2 separate regions of the Homo sapiens genome follow, and region 1 is linked to region 2. A link means that fine-mapping ties the variant in region 2 to the expression of a gene that starts in the linked region. Tissue or cell type: thyroid. Region 2 holds a variant in brackets; the other region holds the start of a gene. All regions are shown on one strand. Distances are from middle to middle.

Region 1 (8,104 bases), 100 kb after region 2:
GTTGTCACATACCTGTGTAGGATGACACAGGAAAAGTCATTGCCCTCCCTGCCTCCTCATTCAGGGTCCCAGTTCCTTCAGGAAGCCTTCCTTGATCACTTAAGAAAGCTTATTCACACAACCGTTCAGCAAATCCTTATACATATTAATAGTCTAACTGGGAGATAAGGCCCCATGAAAAGTTAGGTTAGAATGTAAGCCTTAGTATAAGTGTACAAGTTACCAGATGTCACAGATATCATAGGGCCAAATCAACTGCAGATACAAGTGATTTCAAAATGGAGATCTATATGACCCGGAGCAAGTGGTTTCTCCTCTCCAGGCCTCAATTTCCTTGGCTAGGAAACAGGGGATGGTAATGCAGACATTAGAAGGTTGTCAGCACGACTGAACAGAATAACTTTTGTAATGTTCCTCACATAGACTGGTGCATAATAGGTATTCAATAATAAATTTGATTCCTTCCCCCTTCTCTGTCTGAAGCACCAGCCTTCTACTTGCCCTGGGCTGCCAGATAAATGGTGAGATGTGACCTGGTCCATCCTTTCAGGTCAGAAAAGTATCCTAAGGACAGGATGACTTAAGCGGTACCTGGCATGTTAGAGGTCACTCAGTGTGATAATTCACTAGCATTGTTCATGTTCCTCACCTCTGCCCCCTCAAGCTGTGGGTCTTTGAACGAGCCTGGTGGGAACAGAGCTAATCAGCTGGCAAGTCCAGATACAAGTGTGGTCAGCTTGAGACATGGAGGTTTGTTTACCGCTGTATCTTCAGCTTCTAAAATCATGAGAGGCACACAGTAGGCACTCAAGAAACAGTTGTTGAATGAATACATTTTTTTAAAAGCCATGGAGTTTCCTTTTCCTTTCAAATAAACGACATAAGGGTGTGGGGAGTAGAAGGGGGAGGTGAGTAAATGACAGGGTTCAAGGGACACCAGGGCCAGGCAAATGCAGCTGCCAGGCCCACCAGCCCAGGCTCCTCTGCAAAAGGGATGCAGCAAAGTCAACAGTGCATGTGCTCCCACTGGCAGGATGAGCAGGAGTGCGTGCACGCCTGGCTTACGGTTTAAGCTGCAGTTTACAGGAGAAGCAGGGCAAAGTGGAGACAGAGCCTGGGAAGAAAGGGAGATATCTGGGGAAGAATGAGGAGGGTGAGAGAAGAGGAAGAGCAGTGTGAGGGGGAAAAGGGAAGTGAAGAGTGTTAGAGGAGGAAAGTGAAGAGTGAAGGAAGGAGAGGAGGATGAGGGGGAGGAGGAAGAGGGGAGGCACAGGGAAAATAGGATGGGAAGTGAGGAAGAACTGTGTTGAATTAGAGAGGGAACCTGCTGTACTAGCCTGGATGGAATTAGCAGATCTCTGAGATCTTACTGCCACTCGGTGTTTCCCCGGGAGGAGACTGCATTAGGGAGAGGGTGTGGATTTGGGGGTGTTCCTAGGTGCCAGACCCTGGGCAGACCTCAATCTCCCAGGCACTGAGGCCTTTAGTTCCATGCTTTGCAAATAATGAGGACCCATCCCAGGACCAGAGAGAGCCCTCCGCAAGAAGGAGAAGCCTGAGTCAGCACAGGGGAAGGAAGAAGGCCTAGGAGGCTCAGATCCCTAGCTCTGCCCTTCTGTTTCCATCGTTTCGCCACAACAGCACCTGGCCAGGAAAGTGGGTCAGGCCACCCACATGTGGCTTTTTCTGGTAGCCACAGGGCCCAAAGGCAAGGGGGCTCCAGTGCCCAGTGCAGAGCCCACCTCTACCCTCCATGCCCAGTGCTCTTTTTTGAAGGGATCTTTAAGAAGCAGTGGGCAATGGGAGGAGCTCCTGGCCTTCTTATTCAGGGACAAAACGCTGGGCCAGAGCCCATCCTAGACTGGCGGGAAAGGGGGGCACGGAGCCTGCCATCGGCCTGGGTGCATGGGGAGACCTACATCTTCCCCTATGACAGTGACCAAACTGGCAGGGAGTCACCTCTACTGCCCTGACCTAGGGAGGCTGTTCTCCTCACCACCCTAGGTCCTGGAGTTCTCAAGCAGAGGGCCTGTCAGTCCATCTCTGGCAACTGAGCGCTGTGCCCAGCCCACCCCCTCCAACCCTGCCAGTCGCCCAGTTAGAAGCTGCGTTGGCTCCAACAGATGGGAGCTGCGGCAGCCTGAGGAACAGAGCACAAAGCCCAGCTGACATTTTCCTTCCTGTTCGTTTGGGTGGGGGAGGAAGGGTAGGGAGCACAGTGCTACCCCCGGGGCCCCTCCCCAGGTTCCGGGTCTCCTGCACCTCTTTAGCTTCTCCGCTCGGCCCCAGATGGAGCTCAGTTCCCTCACCCCGCGGCTCCTCGCCGGCTGGGCAGCCAGAGCCTGCGCCACCCTTTGCCAGCAGGACAGACGGCCCACCTGTGGCTGGCCAGCCCATCCTGTCTCCTGGGTCCTGCGGTGGGCTCAGAGCCACCCTTCCGTTTCCGCTTCCCCCTGACCGAGTCCCCAGGCTGAGCCCCAGGCCGGCCCATCCCCCACCCCAAAGGTCCCATCCCAGGCTGCGGTCGGACCCCAGCCAGCCGGCCCGGGAGGAGCCTAGCTCCTGGTTCCAGATACTTCAGACAGACCCAAGGCCACCTTGTCCCTCCGCACAGACTCGCGAGCTCCAAGGAGGAGAAAGTCCCCAGGCTCTGGAGCGCTTCCAGCCTGCCAGTCCGCCCGTGTCACGCCCTCCCTAACCTCACTGCCACCTCTCGGCTCCTCCACATCTCCAGGGCCCCACTCTACCCAGCAACAGTTTGGGGGAGGTTCTGGCCTCTCCAGGCGAAGGCCCAGGCGCCCTCTCCCTGGCCGCTTCTGGGCATTCTCCAGCCCTCCGTCCCTCTGCCCCTCGGCCGCCTCCCTCTCCCAAGTCTCCGGCTCCCCCGCAGGCGTCTCGGCGGAAGGCAGCGGCCGGCCCTCCTCTGGCCCCCACCCGGGTCAGGCGGAGCTGCGGTGCCGGGGCAGGAGCCAGGAGCCCTGAGGCGGCTGCTCCGGCCGCTCCCGCCGCGTACGCCTCGGCCACGCCAGCGACCTCGGTGTCCACGATTCCCCGGCGGCGGCGGCGCTGCCCAGGTCAGCCCCGAAGCTGCACACTCACCCCGTGGGCGCCGGGCACCGTCTGCCGTCTGCTGCCCGCGCGGCCGCGCTCCGCTCGCCTTCCGCCCGGGGCCGGGCTGGGGACGCTGGTCCGCGCCCTCCCGCCGCGCGCGCCGTCTGCACAGGCCGGGGAGGCTCGGCGGGCGCCCTCCCCAACGTGGAGTTATCCTGGGAGCGGCTCCAGGGCCCAGCCGGTGAGGGCGATGGCAGAATCCCAATCCGTCCCCACCCCCTCTCCGCGCCCTGGGCGCGTCGCGGCCGGAGGCTGGCGGGCGAGAGCCAGGCGCTCCTTGAGAGCGCCGCGCGTTCGCAGGTGCCCGGAGCAGGCCCTCGCGGCGCCCGGCACCCCCTCCACGCGCGCCCCTCTTCCCGGCTTCGCGCTCGCCCTCCTCACTCGCTTCTCCGCCGCTCTCCCAACCTCCCCAGCCCACTCCGGTCGCCTCCTCCCAGTCTGCATGCCACGCCAACCCCCTCCAGTCCCGCTGCCATTTTAACTCCTGAGTGGCCAGAGGCCCCCTCTACCTAACGCACACACACCCGGGAGGAAGGAGTTGGGTGGGGCCAGACGCTAACGCTTGAGCTGTCCTTGTGCCTAGAGACACAAGGCTTGGCTGAGAGAAGGGGCACAGCCCTTGGGTCCGGGAAGAGAAGGGTTGGCTTCTCTCATACTGCCTCGGACCCTCTTGCAAAGGCCAGGAGACGAATGGGGAATTCAGCAGCTTTGTGAGGACAGGTGCAGCTCACAGTCACAGCATGCACCTAAGATCACATTTTTGCTTTGCATGGTGCTACCCTCCCGAAGTTAACAGTGGACTAAGGAATGTAGTGGGGTGGGTGAGAATTTGTCACTGGGCCCAGGCACCTCTCACCCTAAAGAATGGAGTGGAAGACCCCTTTAGTTGTCATGCTTTTCCAGCATTGCATCCTGAGCCGTGCAGCTCTAGCATTCTGGAAGATTCCGTCCTGGCTCTCAATGAAGGAGGTCAATTTCAGTCAGGAACTGGCAGGCCCAGTTAGGGGTTTGGCTTCAGGGTTCCCCACTCTGCCAGCTGGACATCATGAAGACTGGGGGAGGAAAGTAAGAAGGTGCCAAAGGTGGGTGCTAGGCTGCTGCCTGGTGGCTTAGAAAAGCTGGGTGACTGCCACTAGAGGAGGGCAAAGGCCCAATGCCCAACACCCATGCCTTGGTGGGGACTTCAGCCTGGACCACTCAGAACAGACATCACAAACTCGGCTCCATGGCAGGCCACACCCTACTGATGGGTCTGGACCAGAGCCTGCAGAACCAACAACAGGGGAATGGATGAGGTGGAGGCCAAGGTGTGGAGTCCTGTGAGGAGTGGCTTCCCTGGGCTGCCTGCCGTCATCCAGTGCTTGAGCTTCTGGCCCTGTCTTTTCCAAGGGTACAGCCAGTGGTGACTGCCATGCCTGGTGGCTTTTGTGAAGTTGGCTTGAAGGTCTGAGTTCTGTATGCACAGAGGGGATTCTCACCTTCATATATTGAATGAGCACATATTAAGTTCCCACTAAACCACCCCCATGTTCCCACTCTCCACCCCTGCTACGGAGCATAATGGCCTCAAGGAGCTCAGAGTGACAGGTTGGAACTATATGAAACCAATTTTAATATTTCAAGACGATGGAAGTGCCATAGAAATACAAAAAGAAACCACCTTAATGGACTAGCATTATTCACAAAAGGTTTAACGGAGGAGCTGAGTCTCCAACTGAGCCTAGTTGGAGGGATAGGATTTGAACTGGAAGAGAATATGGGGACCAGCAAAGGCAGGAAAGTGGAGACAAGCAGAGTAGAATGGGTTGTCTGGAGGGTAGGGGGCAAGGGAGGAAAATTATAGAGCTACTATTAGATGCCAGCCTTTTCTCATCTCTGTCATCTTAGACTCTGAGTTGACTAATATCCCCTTTTAACAGACCGGGGGATGGAGGCCCAGATCGTTTAAGGCAGTAGCCCAAAATCTGTAGGCAGAATGTGAGACCTCATTTTCACAGTGCGACAATGCCACATTGAGTATACAGGGTGGGAGCAGCTGATGAAGGGCCCGAATTGCCAGGCTCAGCAGTTTATCTGTGGACCCATCCTCAGGTGATTTGGGATGAAAGAGGCAGGAGGATGGGAGACTATTGAGGTAGCTGTTGCAGGAATCTAGGAGGAGGGGAGCAGTGAGAATAGAGTAAATGCATGGGCCTTTGTAAAGAAGACTTGGCAGAACTGTAAGACTGACTGATTGAAAGGGGTCAAAACTTGACTCCAAGCTTTTAGCCTGAGCATTTGAGTCCCTTGTCGAGTCACTGGAGCCACCTTTCCAGTCTAAGGGCCAATGTCAATGTAGACAGGATGATGGTGAAAAGGAGGACATTTTAGGAGTCCTTTACCAACTGCACGACCGGAGAGAGCACTCATGTCAGCACCCCAGCTTCCCAATAACTATGCATACTCAAGTGTCTTATCTCCTAACCAGAGGGTAAGCTTCTGGAGCCTATGACTGTCTTACACCTTAATAAGATAAGACCAGTCCTTTATAGTAGATGTCCAATAACTGATTATTGAAATAATAAATGGGATAAATGCAAGTAACGTTCACTAAGTGGTTGATCCTGAGTGGCAAAGCCTGTGAGATGTACTAGATGAGGCATAAGGGAATTTCATCAGCTGTGAGAAGAAAATAGGGGAAGGCTTATCTTGAGCTGACTCCAAATGTCTTAGAACCCAATGAGATTGGAGAAAGAGTGTAGCTTTTAGAGCTGGAAAGATTTGGATTTGGAACTCTACTTGTCCATTTACTCTGTCTTGCTTCAGGCAAAGTATTGAACTTCCCCAGCTCTGATTCTTTCCTGAGTAACGATATTAATTCAAGTAATAGCAGTTAACATTTATTGAGCACCTACTACATGCAAGGCAAGGTGCTAGCACATTTATGCATCATCTCATCAAAAATTTGACCAATACTAGGACTCTAGTGATAGGAGAAAAACAAGGTTCAGTGTTTACCTAACCAGTATGTAACAGAGCTAAGACGGGAATCCAGGGTCCTCAAATGACAGAGTCCAAACACCAAGCCAAGTCTCCCTAGCACTTCTTTAGGATGAAGATAGCAATAATGGAATGGATTCATACTTATAGGTTGCTGTGAGATGTTACAGGGACTATATGGCTGGCATGAGCACAGTGGCTGGTGCATGGTATGTGGTTGACATTTTTCTCCCAACCCTGCTCCCATTGCTGCCATTCTGAGTCTCATACTTTCCTGGGAAAAGCTGCCCCAATTCACAGTCCTTTGGAAGCTCTTAGGTAATTACCCAGAGGATTTAATGGCCCTGTTATTGACCTTTCACCCTCCAAATTTAATTTCTGGGCTTGGCCATGCATTATTTCCCACCAGGAAGCCTGGAACTCCGTGACATCAGAGTGTCTTGGGAGAGGGATGCAGGGATTACATGCTGCTAGAAATGATCCTTAGCTCAATTCCAGGTGGCTCTCTCATATAGGGGTCAGGATATGGAACTGGTGGGGATGCTGTTTGTGTGGTGGGGGCTGTGAGGAGAGGATGGCTCCTACTGGTGCCTGGCACATGAGCCGAATCAGAGAAGGGAGGCCTGGGATGTGGCATGGGTCACTGAGGGTCCCTCAGTGGACCCTCCACACACACGACACTGTGTGTTGTGTGCAGCCTCTGCTCAGCCTCCTTGGGAGATATGGGGTGGGGTCTGGGGAGTCAATGAGGACTGTTGTCCCCCACCAGTGACCCAACTAGGCAGAGAGTAAGGCACTAGAGCAGTGGACCTTGGAATCACCTGGAGAGTGTGGGCCAATGCAGGTGCTGAGGTCCTACCCCAGAGTCAGATTCTGTAGTTCTCAGAGTCTGCATTTCAGATAAACCATCCAGGGGATTCTGATTCAGGTGGTTGGATGACCTCACTGTGAGACAGACTGGCCTGGGGGTGCCCATTGCTCTCTGACCGTCCCCTGCCCGGGCTCCCCATGTGCAGAGCCTTGTTCTCTGGGCTATTAGAGAACAAGTGAAGGCAGAGGCAGAGGCAGAGGTGAAGGGAATGAAGCTCAAGTTTTAGGGCTTCTCGACTTGCAGGATGGTGGGGAGAGGGTGGGCTATGAAAGCTGGGAACTGTAGAGTGTCCTAGGTGAAGAGGGGAAGCCAGTTTACGAACAGGAAGCATTTTTATGTAAGGATTTCTGGTAAATGGAATGAAGAAATGTCAGGAGAAAGGGACCCTGAATGTCCAAGGCTCATGTAAATTGTTATCTTCTTGCTGGCCGTAAGTAAATATCACTGTTGTACCTAATTTTGTATTTGGAATTTTGCGGGTTTTTTCTTAAGACGGCCCCACAGAACTGGGATCTTCCCTGACCCCTGCCCTCAGGGAGCTCCCAGGATCCACAGACACCCTTGGAACACAGAAAACCGCAAAGGCAGAGAGACACACGTTGCAGATGGCAGAGCTGTGTGGAACTGCAGGGAGTCTTCAAATTTATCTTGGGTTATATTCCTGGAAAAGGCACTGCAGGTAAAAATGATGTAGGTTGAACCTGTTTTTGCCCAGAAACAATGTGATCATAAAAATTACATTCCTCACCAATGTCCCGGTGCCCAACTTTTTATAGGCATAAGCACAAACACCACAGACACCATATTTAATCAACCATAAATGATACACCTCTACTCTGTTTTTTTTTTAAGATGGAGTCTCGCTCTGCCACCCATGCTGGAGTACAGTGGCAAGATCTTGGTTCACTACAACCTCCACCTCCCAGTTTCAAGCGATTTTCCTGCCTCAGCCTCTCGAATAGCTGGGACTACAGGCGCGTGCCACCACGGCCAGCTAATTTTTGCATTTTTAGTAGAAACGGGGTTTCACTATGTAGGCCAGGCTGGTCTCGAACTCCTGACCTCAAGTGATCCACCCGCCTCAGCCTCCCAAAGTGCTGGAATTACAGGTATGAGCCACCACACCCGGCCCTGTATTTCTTT
Region 2 (8,104 bases):
AGACCATAAAAGGTGACTTCATATACATGATCTTATTTCCTCATTCATTCAAATCCGTGTACATTTGCTGGGCTTACGATAATATGCCTGGACTTTGCTAGATTCTGGGCATGCAATGACAAATTAGACACCCTGTCTGTGCCCAAGAAACTTATGTCAGGGTGGGGAGAGTGCAGGAAAAAGACTGAAAAAGACAAAACAAAACCAAAAATGAAAGCACAGAAAATTTGCAGTATGTGCAGCCAGCAGTCAACGGGTGCTGGTGAAACCGAGAGGAGGAGGCTCCAGCCCAGCCTGGATCAGGGGAGGCTCCCAGGGGAGAGGAAGAAGGGTTGGGCTTTGTGTGCCAGGAAGGAGGGGGTGAAGGGGAGGGGATGGGGGCTCTGGAGGCAGGGGAGCCTGTGGGAGATGGGACATGTTCAATAGCTCAGTCCAGCAGTGCAGAGGGGAGTTTTGAGAAATGAAACAGGAAGAGGGAAGAATGGAAACCACACCTTTTATTGGAACATAGAGTGCTTTGTATTTCTCAAAACACTTTCACATCTATTATCTCCAGTTAGCCTAAAAACAACAGCAGAAGCAGCAGCAACAACGATGCTGAGTGCTGACTGCGAGCCTGGCTTCCTCGGAGGGAGTTTACCGTGCGCTGCCTCCTTGGACCCTCATCACTGCCCTGCGAAGCAAGCACTTTCCTCACCCCCTCTGTCTGGAGGAGGGCACTGAGGCACCGAGAAAACTGGGCAGGGGAGGCCCGAGAAGGAGAGGGTGGCACCGTCATTCTCACTTTCCAGCTGAGGACACGGGTAAGTGGCATGCGTCCGCTCCTGTGACTTACAGGAGTCCCGGGACTCGCACTCGGGCCTCTGGACTCCTAGCCTGGTGTTTTCCCCTGGAAGTTTCTGAACCAAAAAAAAAAAATGTCTGAACCAAAGCACACAACGAGATTGTGAGTGGAAATCAGCTTCAGCTTCCCTGGTGTTTCTCCACGGTGATCCTCTGTGTCTGTCACTGAAGGGGCCAGGATGTCACCACCAACGGTAATGACCTGGGCTTTGAGTGGAGCATTTAACCTGTTCAGCCAGCTGTTGGAAGTGCAGAAACTAGTCCCTCCCAGTCACAAACTACCCCGGTTGCTCCACCATCTGCATCCAGCTTCATTACTTAATTCACTTTGCAAAGTTAATCCAGTGATCCAAGCTCCTAATAGTCCCCAGTTTGACTTCCGCAGCTTCCCTTTCTCTCCACACCCAGCCTATCCCGGGCTTCTGGGTCACCAAGAAGCAGGACCCTTTCTGTTGATTTCTTCTGGGAGGAGGCCATCTCAATAGCCCTTTACAACAACCCATGAGGTCTCCTGATTTCCGTGTTTTCTTGGAGTCCCCTGAGCTTTGGTTTGCAGCACAAGCTCATTCCCCTCTGTGCTCCCCTCTCACTGTGTGGAACCTTCTCTAATAGACTCACCTCTGGGGAGAGGACGTGCTCCTTTCTGGCCGCAGCTGCAGCCATTCCAATGTACATCAAAGCGCTCGTCTTTCTATCTCCACTTCTTAAATGGTTTTGCTTTTTCTCTATTTCTTCCTTCTCATGGGCAGCTCAGAGCTCATCTGTGACAGTGACCACCCTTCTGCCCCAGCCCTGGCCCCACGACCTTCCCTAACACTGCAAACAACTTCACTCTTGGCCTCCTGCTGGATATCTGGTCAGTGGCCTACATTCCTCCCACTCATGCCTCTTTCTTTTCTTTCTTTTCTCTCTCTTTTTTTTTTTTTTTGAGACAGGATCTTGCCCAGGCTGAAGCCCAAGTGGCAAGATCAAGGCTCGCTGAAGCCTCAACCTCCCAGGTTGAAGCCATCCACCCACCTCAGCCTCCAGAGTAGCTGGGACCACAGGTGTGCACCACGATACCTGGCTAATTTTGTCTTTTTAAAATTTTTTTGTTGACAAGGTCTCACTATGTTGCCCAGGCTGGTCTTGAACTCCTGGACTCAGGCAATCCTCTCACCTTGGCCTCCCAAAGTGCTGGGATTACAGTTGTGAGCCACCATACCTGGCCTGCATACCCTTTTCTATCTGGCTTTCTAGACTTTAAAATCTTTCTTGGTGGCTCCAGTTTGCCATATCTTATGGTCCTGAAATGACCCCTGTCACTGAGGCAGGGAGCAGAGGAGACTGGGAATTTGTGCTGATGGTAAATAGATATGGTTTGAATCCTGGCCACTGCCCACCAGCCATGTGACCAAGACTTAACCATATTTTTTCGGGGTGTTATGCAGAGATAATGAGATCAAAATTGTAAGGCATCTAGTACTGACATAATAAGCTCTCAACAAATGGTAGCTATTTAAGTGTTAATAACAAATCCTTTTCAGATGGTTTCTATAACAGTGAATTTGCAAATAGTTGGAACCTCTGAAGTGCTTCCTCTCCTGGACTGGAAACCCCTTGAGGTCAGTGGCCTTGTCTGCCTATTCACAATGTCCGTCTAGCACATGGTAGGCTCTTAATATATATATATATATATATATATATATTTATTTATTTATTTTTTGATGAATGAATAATCTAGACTATCCTAAATTCTGATATCACGATTCCTTTCTAGTATTAAATTCCAAATTATAATACATGTTAATTGCAGAAAAATTGGAAAATATTTTTTAAAAATAGGAAAACAAAAAAATAGCTGTGATCCTAGTCCCTAGAGATAGCCACAGTTAATATTTTGATATATTTCCCTGCAGCCTTTTTTTCTGTGCTTATGCATATTTCAAAAATTTTATATTCTGGCTTTTCAGTTAACATAATGAGCATTTCCCTGTGTTACTAAATAATCTTCATAAACATAATTTTAAGTGCTACATATATTATTCTGTGCTATGAATGTATCATAATTTATGTAACCAATACCCAGTGGTTGATATTTAAGTTGTTTCCATTTTTCACCATTATAAATAAAGCTACACTGAACATCCTTTTGCATAAATCTTTGTGTATATCTGAATTAAGATTTTCTACCAAGAATAAATTCTACAAAGTAAATTGCTGATTTAACAGTGAACATGTTAAGGCCCCAGGTAAATGTCTTGTTAAATGATTCTTCATAGAGGTTGCACTCATTGTCTGTCCTCCTGCTATCAAGGTATGAGAATTCTCACCACCAGAATATTGTTTAAAATGAAAGAGTCTTTGCCAAATGGAGAAGTGAGACACAAAGCCTATTTTTTCATGATGATCGCTCCTGTCTTTGACAAGCATGGTGCTTGTCAACTTGACATTTTGGACTAGATGGTTCCTGGTGTGAGGGGCTGCCCCGTGCATTGTAGGATGTTTATCAGCATCCCTGACCACCTACTAGATGTCAGTAGCACCCCCTTTCCCCCAGTTATGATAACCAAAAATATCTCCAGACATCACCAAATGTCCCCTGGGGAACAAAATCGCCCCTGGTTGAGAATGATGGAGTTATACTGTATTAACTCTATTGGTTACAAGTAACAGAAACCAACTCTAAGCAAAAATGGGGACTTTGTGAGAAAAGTCTTAAGGTATCATGGAACCCAAAGGCATGGATGCAAGTGGGCCTCCCTCCTCTTTTCAGGGCTGCCTCATTCTTTTCTCTTGCTGTAGACTGGCTTTCTCTCTATTCTTGACTCCAAGGAGGAGAACGGCCACCACTAATATTTCTGAAGTTTATGTCCCTGTGTTTATGAGAAAGCCAGGCTACCCTGGAGTCTCTTGGTTCCAAATGCTCAGGGAAGGACTCTGAGATGCGCAGCTTAGGTGGGCTATGCACAGCTGGTCCCATCAGTGTGGCTGTCGGGGGACAGGAAGGACACGTGGCTCCTGGAGATCTTGTTGTATCCATGTGGATGTGCCTGTATTTCTAGAAAAAGGCTGCTGGGCAGCTGATCCCTTAGGACTCCCCTAGATGCCCACACAACAGAACACTGGACACTTTGGCTACAAGGCCAGGGACTGTCTATCTCAACGGTGTACCCTTCATAGTTCAGCCTAGATGTCCAAGCTTGGCTTGATGGTGGCAACTGCTCTGCCACCCAGGCTTTGGTTTAGGGGTCTTTTGGGGGTGGAGGGGCCAATTCCTCTGTGACTGACTGGCTGATGCAGCTTACTTGAACAGATCCAGCCTAGAGAGCCAACTTTAGAGACTGGCGTTTGCAAGTCTGTAATGGTGTTTGACAGGGGAAGTAGATGACTGCTGGTCCTCCTTCATAAACTCGGCCTTGGAGTGTGCAGCCACTGAGGTACAGGGGTCCCGTGCTGTCCCTGCACTAACTGGAGTGCTCAAAATCCAGCCTCTGCCTTCAAGAAGGGAGCAGGTCGGTGTGCAGTCAGCATGGCCCTGAGACCTAGCCCTGAGGACAGAGACTGTCCCCTGTGGGCACCTGGAGCTGTTGGTAAATGGGCAGAAAGGCAGGGCTGTTACCCATACTTGTATTAGAGGAAGAGCATCCTCTTTTTCTCTCTCTTCTTTTTTTTTTTTTTGAGACAGTCTTGCTTT[G/A]TTGTCAAGCTGGAGTGCAGTGGTGCAGTCTCGGCTCACTGAAACCTCCGCCTCCTGGGTTCAAGCGATTCTCCTGCCTCAGCCTCCCAAGTAGCTGGGACTACAGGCACACGCAACCACGCCTGGCTAATTTTTGTATTTTTAGTAGAGATGGGGTTTCACCATGCTGGCCAGGATGGTCTCCATCTCTTGACCTCGTGATCCTCCCAAAGTGCTGGAATTACAGGTGTGAGCCACCACGCCAGGCCTAGCATCCTCTTCTGAAAGTCTTTCCAGCACACAGATGCCATTCCTGCCTTCACCTCGCCGTGTGGTCTTGGACGGTCATTTCTCTGAGTCTCAGTTTCTTCATCAGAAATGAAATGATACCTGCCTTGGCTTCCTCATAGCATCTAAAAAGACATTTGATAGAAAAGTGCTTTCAAAAGCAGATTGCAGGCCGAGTGCAGTGGCTCACGCCTATAATCCCAACACTTTGGGAGGCCAAGGCGGGTGGATTACTTGAGCCCAGGAGCTTGAGACGAGCCTGGGCAACATGGCAAAACCCTGTGTCTACAAAAAGTACAAAAATCAGCCGAGGATGGTGGCACACGCCGGCAGTCCCAGCTACTCGGGAGTCTGGGGTGGGAGGATCACTTGAGCCCAGGAGGCAGAGGTTGCGGTGAGCTGAGATTACACCACTGCACTCCAGGCTGGGTGACAGAGAGAGACCCTGTCTCAAAACAAACAAATAACAACAACAACAAAAAAAAAACAAGAAACAAAAAAAACAAAAGCAGATTGCAAAAGCAGTGCACATCTTGTAATAAAGATGCTTATGATCATTATTTCAGTTCTGGGGAAATTCTAAATCCTTGGCGCCACTTATTGCACAACAGAGGCAGGGCCTGGGGCAGTGCTGCTTCTGCGCCATCTCTCTCAGACCTGGAGCTGGCTCCAGATTTCTGCTGCCTGAGAATATTTCAGGGAAGTTTCCCCTAGAAACTGAGAAGCCTAAACGTGAGTTGGGTTTTTATTCCCTGTGTGACCATGGCCATGTTAATTCACCTCTCTGGGCTTCTATCTCAGCATCTGTGAAGTGGGCATAATAGTGGCATCTATTTATACGTCATTTATGCCTGTCAAGTGCTTGTGCCTGGCACAGGGTAGGTGCTCACTCAGTGGTTGCTCTGCTTGTTTATATCACAATGTGGCAGGCACTGGGCCAGGTGCCAGGCACTGAGAGATGAATAGAATGTAACCAGCCCTTAGGACACTTATGATTTACCAGAGGAGATGGCACAAAAAGCATATTAAAAAGCAATGTGGCAAATTAAATGGTAGTAATCCTACCAAGTGATAGTGCTCCTGGGATTGGGTTCCTCTCAGATGCTCCCCAGGGGCTACTGGAGTGATGTCAGGTAAGGCAGGACACCAGGAAACACCCATTCTCCCGGGCTCTCTGCAGAGCAGGCAGCTTTTGGACCTACCCGCTTCAAGGAGCTGAAGAAATGCCTTCCTCCTCACCTCTCAGGCTCACAGGGAACATTTTTCAAAGGGAAAAACTCTTTTTTTTTTTTTTTTTGTAGTCATCCAATGTTTTCAACCCTAGGGCAATGGTTAGGGAGAGAGGACATCTTGTGGGTGGCCTATAACACGGTCAGTAACCTTATGCCACAAAGACTACACATGACATAGAAAGGTACTTATGTTGTGCACCGAGGAGGCACTGACCCTGTGCATTCCCAGCACCTCAGAACCGCTAGCTCTGTGCAAACCTTCCAGCCACCTCGGGCCCAGGAAGGCGGGGTGGGGGCCTTGATTCAGAAAAGGCAGAGACACTGCAGTCCTGGGGAGGGGTGATGTCTAGAGCCTGAGAGGAGCAGTGGAGCACTCACGGGAAATGCAAAGCAGACGCAAGACCAGGCCCAGAGCCTGGCGGAAGTGGGGAGGGGTGGGGCAGGTGTGGGGCATTAGTTGGGGAGGGGCTTGCTAGGAGGAGGTGACTTCAGAAGGCATCTGCGGACTGTGGTCTGGGACTCTGCTGGATGTGGCATGGCTTTGCCACCCTCAACTCTGGTGTGTTAAAGAGGTAAAGGTCACACGTACACATGGATGAGGACAGGGAAGACACACAGGAAACAAAAACAGATTTGTTAGGGCTGTCGAAGAGTGGTTTGCTTATTTTGAGGCCTCTCCCCATTTCTCTTTTCCTTATCAGGATGTGTACGGCACCCGCATCCCCTCCATCTGCACCCGCAGCCACAGCCACAGCCACAGCCAGCGCTATGTCCCGTTGCCATTCACATTCATACCTGCAACGTACACTCATACATGTGTCGGATATTTGCGAAGAAGCTCCCTTTCCCACCTAGGTAAATGCTAGCTTCCAGAAATTTGAAAAAAAATGAGTGTAATTCCTACTGGGTTGGTTCCCAGCAGGCCTTTGTCTTTCCTTCTCCCTCCTCCAGGCCCCTCTTCTTTCCTTTCCTTTCCTTTCCCTCCTCTACCTCTTTCCCTTCCTATTCTTCTGCTCCTCCTCCCTCCCAGCTGGTTCCCTATTTCCCTTACCCCCTCAAACATCTCCCCTCTCTCCATCCCCACTCCCAATCTGCCAAACCCACCCCCACCTAAAAATGTGGACCGTGGAGTCTCTGACCGAGGTTTCCTTTCCCAACATGGGGAGCCCGGGCTGGCTGCGATTTGTTGGGGACAGGTAAGAAGGTGCAAACTTGGGGGTTCAGAGGGAGGGCGGGGGGGGTGGCTGGGATGCATGGGGTAGGTAGGGGTGGCAGTTTTTCCAAATTATACATTCAGGCCATATGTGGAACCCTTGCAGAGACCTGGCTTGCTGTTTTTCTGTCTCTTCCTGGTGTGCTGGGCAGTCTCTCTGTGCTCATGGTTTAACCAGTCTTTCTTTATTTTTATTTTATTTATTTATTGTTTGAGACAGAGTCTTGCTCTGTTGCCTAGGCTGGAGTGCAGTGGTGTGATCTCGGCTCACTGCAACCTCTGCCTCCAAGTTTCAAGTGATTCTCCTGCCTCAGCCTCCCGAGTAGCTGGGATTATAGGCACCCGCCACCACGCCCAGCTAATTTTTGTATTTTTAGTAGAGACGGGGTTTCACCAGGTTGGCCAGGCTGGTCTCGAACTCCTGACCTCAGGTGATCCACCCGCTTCGGCCTCTCAAAGTGCTAGGATTACGGGAATGAGCCACCATGCCTGGCAGCTCTTTTCTATTTCTTTTTTGGCTCTCTCTTGTCTCTCTCTCTTTTTTTTTTTTTTTTGTTTTTTGTTTTTTTTTTTGAGATGGGGTCTTGCTCACTATGTTGCCCAGGCTGATCTTGAACTTCTGGGCTCAAGCCATCCTCCTGCCTCAACCAGCCAAGTAGCTGGGATTACAAGCGAATGCCACAGCACCTGGCTGCTCATTTCCTTTTAGCGCTGAATAATATTCCATTGTCTGGATGTACCACAGTTTATTTATCCTTCCACCTCCTGAAGGACACCTTGGTTGCTTCCAAGTTTTGGCAACTAGGAACAAAGCTGCTATAAACATCTGTGTGTGGGTTTTTTTGTGGACATAAGTTTTCCACTCATTTGGGT

Evidence for each region. PIP is the estimated chance that this variant, and not a neighbour inherited with it, causes the effect.
Region 1: it holds the start of LRRN2, and the variant in region 2 is fine-mapped to the expression of LRRN2 in thyroid (GTEx, PIP 0.91).

The regions. Positions count from the first base shown.
Region 1 is chr1:204,682,221-204,690,324 of GRCh38, forward strand. LRRN2 (leucine rich repeat neuronal 2) reads right to left here and starts at 3,518. Exons shown (of 2, transcript NM_201630.2): 1 at 3,100-3,518.
Region 2 is chr1:204,578,711-204,586,814 of GRCh38, forward strand. LRRN2-AS1 (LRRN2 antisense RNA 1) reads left to right here. Exons shown (of 13, transcript XR_007066814.1): 3 at 1-1,699; 4 at 2,370-2,447; 5 at 6,720-6,873. Among named protein-coding and RNA genes, the nearest start is that of LRRN2-AS1, 19 kb to the left of the region's middle. RefSeq lists an enhancer at 1-66. The variant G/A (reference allele first, on the strand shown) is at 4,520.